Homo sapiens: one gene and its partners. The protein of the gene in region 2 interacts with the protein of the main gene of each other region in a pairwise test. Each region holds a gene or a part of one and is shown on either strand. Other genes may lie near its edges.

Region 1 (3,657 bases), on a different chromosome or scaffold from region 2:
TTGGGAGTGTGAGCATGTGGCTATCTTCAAATACTACCAGATTTAGCTTCCTTAATATGTCCCTTGGATGTTCAAAAGTCTGTTAAGTGCTCTTTATTGCCTACTGTAAGAGGCAATAAAGAAATCCAAACTCAGAAGCCCAACCTAAAACAATATACATAGGACCTCTAAGACCTACTCCAGAGATCTTCCTTACAGCAAAATTTAGGCAAAAACCCCTATCCCCGAAGACTGGTCAGGAAATAACATGAACTAGGGTCAAGTAGTGTCTCAGGGCTTTTCTGAGACCCTACTCAAGGACGGACACGCTGCAGCCAACATAGCTAGATTTATTTTCCCCAAAGAACTGTCTGTTTAGAAATGTGGGGAGAGCTATAAGGCTCCATCCTATCTTAAAACAAACCAACAGTTTAAAATATTTTACACTTTAAAACTAGCGACTGATACATTCTGGGAAATTAAACAGCATAAGGATTTCTCTGTTCTAAAATATATAAATGCAGACCGAAAAGAAGCATGAGGAGACTTTCCAGGGTGTTGACAACATTTCATATTCTGGGTGCTGGTTACATAGGTGTGTGAGTTTGGTAAGATTTACTGAGCTTCACACTTAACGCTCTATGTACTTTTCTGTATGTATGCTACACTTCAAAACACATTTTATAATGTGCTTTTACTATTAGCTGAAAGGTGGGGGAATATTAGAAGGGTACTCAGCTTTAGAAATACAAAAAATAAAATCTTTACAATAAACTTTCAAATTGTCAAGATATTTTATTAAGTTTCAAACATGATTTTTGTTAGACCTCGGCTAAGTAGGGGGAAAAGGAGACTCTTTTAATTGAATCATCTTACTTGAGCTCTTCTCTTTCCTTCTGACAATTTCCAAGGAAGTTTCCAAACTGGCATGAATGAATATGCTCATGGATCTGAAGAAGAAATGCTTCACTGAATTCAAAGGCTTGTGGAAACTGTTCGGTCAAATGCCACACACATTCCAAGAACTGAGTAAACACTGGTGAGACTTCCTTTGGGTCACCATCCAACTGGCCACACCTAACCCCACAGAAAGTATAAGCTTTTAAAAACACCTCTGAAAGGTCCATTGTTCAGGTATTGTTAATCTTAAACATACAAAAATATTCCTAAAGCACTGTTACATTAGCATGCAAAACTAGAATTTTTATTGAAACCATTTATGAGTTTTTAAACCACAGCTTTAAAGGATCTGTTACCATCTCTAAATAAAATGCAGCCCAAAAGGAAGGTAATAAATAGTCATGAAAATTAACAAGCGTACTAGAATTGAAAGAAATTACAGAAAAAAATTAAATGTCTTTACGTAAAATACAGTAAAAACCATGACACTCTTACCTCCCATCACGCATGTGAGTTCATAAGGAACAGAAACATTTTGGCATTCTAAACTTGGTTTACTAATTTTATAAAATATATGACTGTGTAACTGTGACTCACCTCTCTGAAAATTTATGTCCAAAAGAGATCCAATCCTTTTCTATTAAAACCTTAATGAGAAAAAGTAAAATTCACTTTCTGACTACTTTCAATTATTTTGTTTAGGCTGGATTAAATCTTATTAGTTTAAAAACAGTATTTACTGTACACTTTTAACTTATAAACAAAACAGCACAAAAAACCACAGGCAAAAGAATGCCAAAACCTTGATTCGAGGTGGGGTTAAAGAAGAATAAAAATGCATAAAAAGAAATAGAGTAGTTTCGTGACTTAAATTATTTCCGTTGAATTTATTACATTTTAAGTGAAAAGTACATGTTATAAAGCAGTATTACATTTAAGTTTTTGTATGTATGAAGATGATATATCATAGGAAAAAGGCTAGAAAAATGTAAACCAAAACTGCTAACAAAGGATAACTCTAGGTGGTAGACTGAGGTGGATATTTTAAAACTTTTGGCTTACTTGTACATTTTTTATATTATTTATATACTACTTTTTTTAAGAAAAAAAAACTAATGATAAAAAGACCAATTATTTTAATCAAATCATCTTACTTGAGTTCATGTTCAGATCCAAGTGTTAACATCTATCCTCTTGAATGGACTGACTTTATGTTTTCCTTGCCACAGCTTCTCTACTTACCCACTCCACTGTAAAAACAGATTTCTAACTTTTTCAGTCTAATCTAAACACATATTTGTAGTATTTAGTACACTTTATCACTTAACTATACAGTCACCAAGCACATTATTTTCATAGTGTCAAAACTGCTGGTTTTAGCTTCTCTGATTTTGTCTCAAGCCTCTGCTTTCCGCAGAAGGCTATACACTGATGTGGCTGAGGATGTAGTCGCTGGAGCTCAGGCACAGGCTCCAATCCCAGCTTCACCACTTTGTGTGACCTTGTGGCTGGAGCCACAGATTTTATTCTGGTCTCTCTGCCATTCTTCTACAAAACCATGTTTAAAGCATAACTCAATATCTTTCTCACTAAATGTATTCTTTGGCTTATCTCAGTGAAGAGCCAGAGAGCAGCACCATCCATCCTGGCACCTAATTCAGAAACTTGGAAATCATCCCAGAGGAAGACTCCTCTCTTCTATCCCACATCCAATCCATGATCAATTCTTCCTGACTCTACTTTCTTTTTTTTTTGAGACAGGGTCTCACTCTGTTGCCCAGGCTGGAGTGCAGTGGCGCAATCTTGGCTCACTGCAACCTCCGCCTCCTGGGTTCAAGTAATTCTTCTGCCTCAGCCTCCTGAGTAGCTGGGATTATAGGTACACATCACCATGCCCGGCTAATTTTTGTATTTTTAGCAGAGACAGGGTTTCACCATATTGGCCAGGCTGGTCTCGAATTCCTGACCTCATGATCCACCCGCCTTGGCCTCCCAAAGTGCTGGGATTACAGGCGTGAGCCACTGCGCCCAGCCACTGACTCTACTCTCTAAACATCCCTGGAACCCATCACCTCCCCCTTCACTTGTGTGTTACTATTTTAGTTTGGTAAAATTAAAAACTTTTGTCTCATAAGTTATCATAATAGTGTCTACACTCGCCTCCTAGCCTCCATTCCCACTCCCTTTGGCCTTCAAGATACCAAGCCACCTTTTTAAAAAGCACATCTAATCAAGTTACTGTTTGCTTGTTTAAAACTCTTTAATAGCTCCCATTATCCAAAGAGGGGAAAGCCCCATTCCAGCCTTCTCTTTCTCAGGCCCTGACCCCACTCTATTCCTCTGCCTCCAAGCCCCCTATTCTAATACTCACTCTGAACTCCATCCATCACACATTACCTGCAGTCACCCAAAGAGGTTATGCTTTGATTTACACTGTTCCTATTGCCTGGGAAGCTCTCACATCATCCCCATTTATTACATGATTTCATTTGGATGTCTAACAAATAATTAAAGCCAAACATGGCAAAGAAAATATTCCTTATCGTACACTCTCAAGGTAAGCTGAGCATTATTTTCTTATTAGCAGCACTCCCGCTTGGCCTGTCCCAGAGTCGGTATGTTAGCAGCAAAAAATAGCGGTGCTGAAAAGGGACTGGTGATTTTAAATCTTCCTTTGCTTTAAGATGGCACTGTATTTAATAATTCAAGACTAATGAAAATTTTCTAACATCTCTTCATTTAATTTACCATGAGTTAAGATGTAAATTTTGAAAACAT
Region 2 (2,727 bases):
GGAATCGCTGCCAGTACTGCCGGCTACAGAAGTGCTTCGAAGTGGGCATGTCCAAGGAAGGTAGGCTGCCATCCTTGGCTTGGGCAGGAGCACTTCGGTCCTACCCTATGGCTGTGGCCCTCTTTCCTCTGGCCACTCCCACTTCCCTGACCTCTGAGACTTGGCCTGCCCTGGGGTGCTGCCTTCTCCCAGGCCAGTCTTATTTGATTAGCTCCATTCAACCAGGAGGCCCCACCATTTCCCATTCTCCCTCTCAGGGAGCTTGACTCTTCCTCTGAATGGGTGAATAAGTAGGGTCTCACATTCCCCCTGTTTCATGGGGGAAATGAAGCCAGTGGGCTTGCCAGTCCCTTTCCCTCCCCTGGACTGAGCCAGAGATGGATATGGGGTGGCTCCTCCTCTCCACCCCCCCCTCGCCCCCATTGTGCTGCCAAGGCTATAAGTGGATATCCTGCCGCCTGCATATCCTGCCCCCCCTCCCCCAGCTCCTGCAGGGTGACAGGAAGGACAGGATGGAGCCGAATGGCCTGGGGAAGGAGCAGGGGCTGCAGGCCCTGGGTGGGGCTGGGGAGAACCAGCCTGGGAATAGGAGCTATTATAGGTGATAGGGAAACTGAGGCAGTAATTACAGTGCCAGAGAATAGATATTCATGATAAGGACTGAGCATATTAAATTAGGGTGAGAGAGGACACCCAAAGGGAGGCTCTGAGGGTCCTGACCCTCTCCTTGCGCCTCCACCCACAAGCTGTGCGAAATGACCGGAACAAGAAGAAGAAAGAGGTGAAGGAAGAAGGGTCACCTGACAGCTATGAGCTGAGCCCTCAGTTAGAAGAGCTCATCACCAAGGTCAGCAAAGCCCATCAGGAGACTTTCCCCTCGCTCTGCCAGCTGGGCAAGTATACCACGGTGAGGAATGGGCAGAGCCCAGTGAGGGCAGGGCACTCTTCACTTTGGGGAATGGGGCTGGGTTGTGTTGGAGGCTATCATCGACTGGTGCTGAGGACAAGGAGGGCATCAGAATGCAGAGGAGAGAGCTTGGGATATTGGTAGAGAGAAGACAGCCCCCAGAGGTGGGCCTTAGCTTGCCTTCCAACCTTCTACCCCTCCCCTCTGCAGAACTCCAGTGCAGACCACCGCGTGCAGCTGGATCTGGGGCTGTGGGACAAGTTCAGTGAGCTGGCTACCAAGTGCATCATCAAGATCGTGGAGTTTGCCAAGCGGTTGCCTGGCTTTACAGGGCTCAGCATTGCTGACCAGATCACTCTGCTCAAAGCTGCCTGCCTAGATATCCTGGTAAGTTAGGCCCTGTGGGTCCTGCCACAGCCCGACCCACATATGGGACCCTCAACAATTCCTTGATCCATGCAAAGATTTCCTTACCCTGCACCCCCTGCCACACATGTGGGACTCCTCAGCTCTCTTTTCGTCTTAGCCTCTGCCCCTATGACCTGATCCTAGACTTTTGGATGCCCTGTCTCCTCCTGACTTCCCGGGACTACCCCTGCCAAGCCTCAGATCCTCCACCTCTGCCTTCTCCATGCCTGCTTCAGGTTGCACTCACTGGGGACCTAACCTCCTCACTTTCCACTCATTCCCTCTTTTCCCCATCCCCCAGAAACAGCACTAACCCTCCTCCACCCCCCACCTCCAGATGCTGCGTATCTGCACAAGGTACACCCCAGAGCAGGACACCATGACCTTCTCCGACGGGCTGACCCTGAACCGGACCCAGATGCACAATGCCGGCTTCGGGCCCCTCACAGACCTTGTCTTTGCCTTTGCTGGGCAGCTCCTGCCCCTGGAGATGGATGACACCGAGACAGGGCTGCTCAGCGCCATCTGCCTCATCTGCGGAGGTGCGGGGGCGCCCCCTGGCGTCTGCTCAGTGCTCAGTCTCCTTTCCCACCACTCCATGCGGAATCTGTCTGGGAGGGGGCGTGGAGGACCCAGTGGTCTCTTCTGCTGGTAATTCTTGCACCTGGCCCCATCCAGAGAGTTCTGAAACCCTGTACAGGCTTCCCAAAACGCCGGTTGGTGATCAGCCATCTGTCACTGTGTCTTCCCCATCTCTTCCTTCCCCTCTCACTCCAGTATACTTGTCCCCATAGACCGCATGGACCTGGAGGAGCCCGAAAAAGTGGACAAGCTGCAGGAGCCACTGCTGGAAGCCCTGAGGCTGTACGCCCGGCGCCGGCGGCCCAGCCAGCCCTACATGTTCCCAAGGATGCTAATGAAAATCACCGACCTCCGGGGCATCAGCACTAAGGGTGAGTCATGAGTGGGTGTCCCCTCTCTGTCTTCCCAGGGCTGTTGGTCTCCCAGGTCGGACAGGAGGACACACAGAGACAAGAACAGAGTAGTTGAGAACCAGGCAATCTACACTGGAATCCTAGCTCTGCCACATAGTAGTGGGAGACTTTGGGCAAATTGCTTCTAAACCAGTACTGTCCAGTAGAACTTTCTGCAATGATGGGAATACAATAGTCATTAGCCACATGTGGCTATTAAGCATCTGAAATGTGACTACTGCAACTGCAGAATTGAATTTTTAATTCAGCACAATTCCAAGTATGTGTGTGTGTGTGTGTGTGTGTGTGTGTGTGTGTGTGTGTGTATATATATATTTAGAGACAAAGTCTTGGGCAAATTGCTTTACTTTTTTAATCTTGTTTGTAAACTGGGCTATTCTTCACGTACCTTGTAACGCTGTCTTGAGGACTAAATTA
Region 3 (2,995 bases), on a different chromosome or scaffold from region 2:
CTCTGCAGTTGGACAGGCTGTCCTGCATGGGGACAGCCTTGTCCTGCTGTGGCCCTTCCCCCAGCCCTGACTCCCTGCTTGAGCCACTATGGGCACCGGGCTCATTACACACTTAAAAATGCACATCTGGCCACATAGAGATCCCCTTAGAACGCCCAAGGAACTGAGGCTCTTGGAAACACGTGTGTGTGGGAAACGCACAGACACGCACGCCAAAGAGCATCCAGGGCAGGCGCCATGCACGGACAAACACACATGTGTGCACAGACATGGGCCTGTCTCTGCGCTCCCCACACTCACTGTCTGGCCCCAGGACTATAGGAGGGTTGGGGGGTCCCCCTCTGGGTTGTAGCCTCCTCTGGAAGCCCCTCCGCTGGATCCAGAGCAATCCTTCTTCAGGTTCTCCTCCCACACTCTGGAATCCTCCCCCAGGCATGGATGGACAGCTGTGGGCACAGAGGCAGCCACCACTGGCCCCAAGACACTTGCAGGTCCAAGGCTGCACTGGCCAGACCTCCCCCAGATCCTGTGGTCAACCTCCCTTCCTCCATCCACTTCCCCAGCCAGAGAGGAGCCGTGCAGGACAGAGGACACAAACCATGGACCTCTGGACATCTTCCATTTTATAGAAAGGGAAATTGAGGCCAGGGGTTGGGGAGGCCTGGCAAGGAACATGGTGCATGGTAGGTGGCAGAAGGGACCTCTGTGCTCAGAGCTGTGCCTCAGGACCCATCGTTCAGATGGGAAGACTGAGGTTGGGGAGGTGTGTCTTGGGTTAGGAAGCTGGGCTCGGGGCAGGGGTCAGCGCGGGCATGGCAGGCACGGTGAATGTGAACTTCTCAGTCTGGACAAAGGCAACGCCCTTCTCATAGTAGGCAGCCTCGTTAATGAACACGGGGTACACCGTGGACTCTCCCTCATAGAGCAGGTCCTCCCCACTGAACATCTGGAAGATGGGAGCACCAGGCTGCAGTGGCTGGAAGTCTCGGTCCTGGGAGGAGAGCCAAAGGCCAAGATTGCTGGGGCCACCTCTGCCCTGGCCCCAGAGGGGGGTGACCCCAGCTTGACACCCAAAAGATGCCCCTCATTCATGGCTTTTCCCACCCATGCTTCACTTCCTTAATCCATATGACAGCAGGTCTGGTGAGATACCAGTCTGCTCTGTGTCTAGAAATGAAGACACAGGTCACCTTGGGGTGGCATGTGCCCATGTGGAAGTGGACCCTCATGGATACGGGCACAGGTATTGAAGCTGGAGTTCAAATTCTTGCTAGCTGTGTAACTGTGAGCAAGTCACTTAACCTCTGTTTCTCAGCTTTCTTGTCTGTAAAATAAGGATTACAATATCTCCTCCTATCATTCTGAAGTTTAGACTAAACAGGTTAATAGTGCTTACAGCAGTGTCTGGCACACGGTAAGTACAATATGATTCTTTATTAAATAAATTTTGGCTGGGCGCAGTGGCTCACGCCTGTAATCCCAGCACTTTGGGAGGCCAAGGCGGGTGGATCATGAGGTCAGGAGTTCAAGACCAGCCTGGCCAACATGGTGAAATTTCATCTCTACTAAAAATACAAAAATTAGCCAGGTGTGGTGGTGAGCGCCTGTAATCCCAGCTATTCGGGAGGCTGAGGCAGGAGAATCGCTTGAACTCAGGAGGCGGAGGTTGCAGTAAGCCAATATTATGCCACTGCACTCCAGCCTGGGCAACAGAGCGAGACTCTGTCTCAAATAAATAAATAAATAAATTTTAAGCCTGGGCACAGTGGCTCATAATCTCAGTGGCCTGTAATCTCAGCACTTTGGGAGGCTGAGGTGGGCAGATCACTTGAGGTCAGGAGTTCGAGACCAGCCTGGCCAACGTGGTGAAACCCTGTCTGTACTAAAAAGACAAAAATTGGCTGGGTGTGGTGGTGAGTGCCTATAATCCCAGCTACTGGGGAGGCTGAGTCAGGAGAATCGCTTGAACCCAGGAGGCAGATGTCACAGTGAGTTGAGATCGCACCACTGCACTCTAGCCTGGGCAATGAAGCAAGATTCTGTCTCAAAAAATAATAATAAAAAATAAAATAAATTTTAAAATTGTAGGAGGAGCCACCCAAATTGACTGTTATGACTGAACGTCTGCAAGGTAGCTGGGCACGGCTGGATTAAGACTGTCTAGCCCTAAACATGGACGGGATGGTGCTGCCTCCATTTGTAAGAAGGTAACTCCTCAAAATGAAACTTCAGGGCACAAAAGGCCACAAGATTGCACCAGACCCTATTCAACAATGACCCCCTGTGGCAGCAAGCAGAGCAGCAGCCAGTACGTTCTTCTCAGGCACCCAAGGGAAAGGTGTGGAAGCAGGATTGCCTAATCCTGGAACATTCAGGAAGGGAAGGCCTGCAGAGAGACATACTGCCAACATGCATGGGGATGCTCGAGGAACCAATTGAAAATCAGAAGAGAGTTTTGTATTTGCACCTCCAAGCAGGTGAATTGAGTCATGCCTGCTCCATGTCCCCTCCCTCTGCCTTTTACAGCCAGGGTAGGGTTGTCTCCATCATGCCCTCCACAGGAGCTATGGGGATCACTGTGGCCTCTTGTGCTAGGCCTGAGTGTGGGGTTCCAGGGAAGGCAGCAGGGCCAGGGGAAGTGGGATGGCGGAGCCCAGCCTCCCATCCTGCTCCTCAACCCGAGATGCTGGTGAGCTCGTGGGAGGCTTGGCTGCACCCCCTGGGGCTCAGTTTTCCTTGACAATCCTCCTCCCCAAGGCTGTGGCCCCAGAAATCACCCCCCACCACACACACACACACACACACACACACCTGCAGCTGAGGATGCACAGTGCCTGCCAGGTGCCCGGCCTCGGTGCGGGGGAAGTCCACGACGCCCACGGGTCTATAGGCTTCCATCTCAAAGGCAGGAAAGGCCGTACCTGTGTGGGAGGCTGGGTGTGTGAGCCCATCCCTCCCTCCAGGCTAGGGGACAGACTGGGCCGTGGGGGTACGT

Evidence for each region.
Region 1: the proteins of RARG (region 2) and MTMR6 interact in a two-hybrid assay, tested with the Homo sapiens proteins (one large-scale study listed by BioGRID and IntAct).
Region 3: the proteins of RARG (region 2) and ACY3 interact in a two-hybrid assay, tested with the Homo sapiens proteins (one large-scale study listed by BioGRID and IntAct).

The regions. Positions count from the first base shown.
Region 1 is NC_000013.11:25,252,909-25,256,565, forward strand, and holds part of MTMR6 (phosphatidylinositol-3,5-bisphosphate 3-phosphatase MTMR6), read right to left. Parts: intron 2,165-3,657; coding exon of another isoform or gene 2,114-2,164; exon of another isoform or gene 1,541-2,113; intron 1,527-1,540; coding exon 1,477-1,526; intron 1,057-1,476; coding exon 856-1,056; intron 1-855. UniProt on the Homo sapiens protein: Lipid phosphatase that specifically dephosphorylates the D-3 position of phosphatidylinositol 3-phosphate and phosphatidylinositol 3,5-bisphosphate, generating phosphatidylinositol and phosphatidylinositol 5-phosphate.
Region 2 is NC_000012.12:53,212,626-53,215,352, reverse strand, and holds part of RARG (retinoic acid receptor gamma), read left to right. Parts: coding exon 1-60; intron 61-746; coding exon 747-907; intron 908-1,117; coding exon 1,118-1,294; intron 1,295-1,652; coding exon 1,653-1,857; intron 1,858-2,109; coding exon 2,110-2,268; intron 2,269-2,727.
Region 3 is NC_000011.10:67,641,949-67,644,943, forward strand, and holds the end of ACY3 (N-acyl-aromatic-L-amino acid amidohydrolase (carboxylate-forming)), read right to left. Parts: intron 2,922-2,995; coding exon 2,812-2,921; intron 992-2,811; coding exon 776-991; 3' UTR 607-775; downstream 1-606. UniProt on the Homo sapiens protein: Plays an important role in deacetylating mercapturic acids in kidney proximal tubules. Also acts on N-acetyl-aromatic amino acids.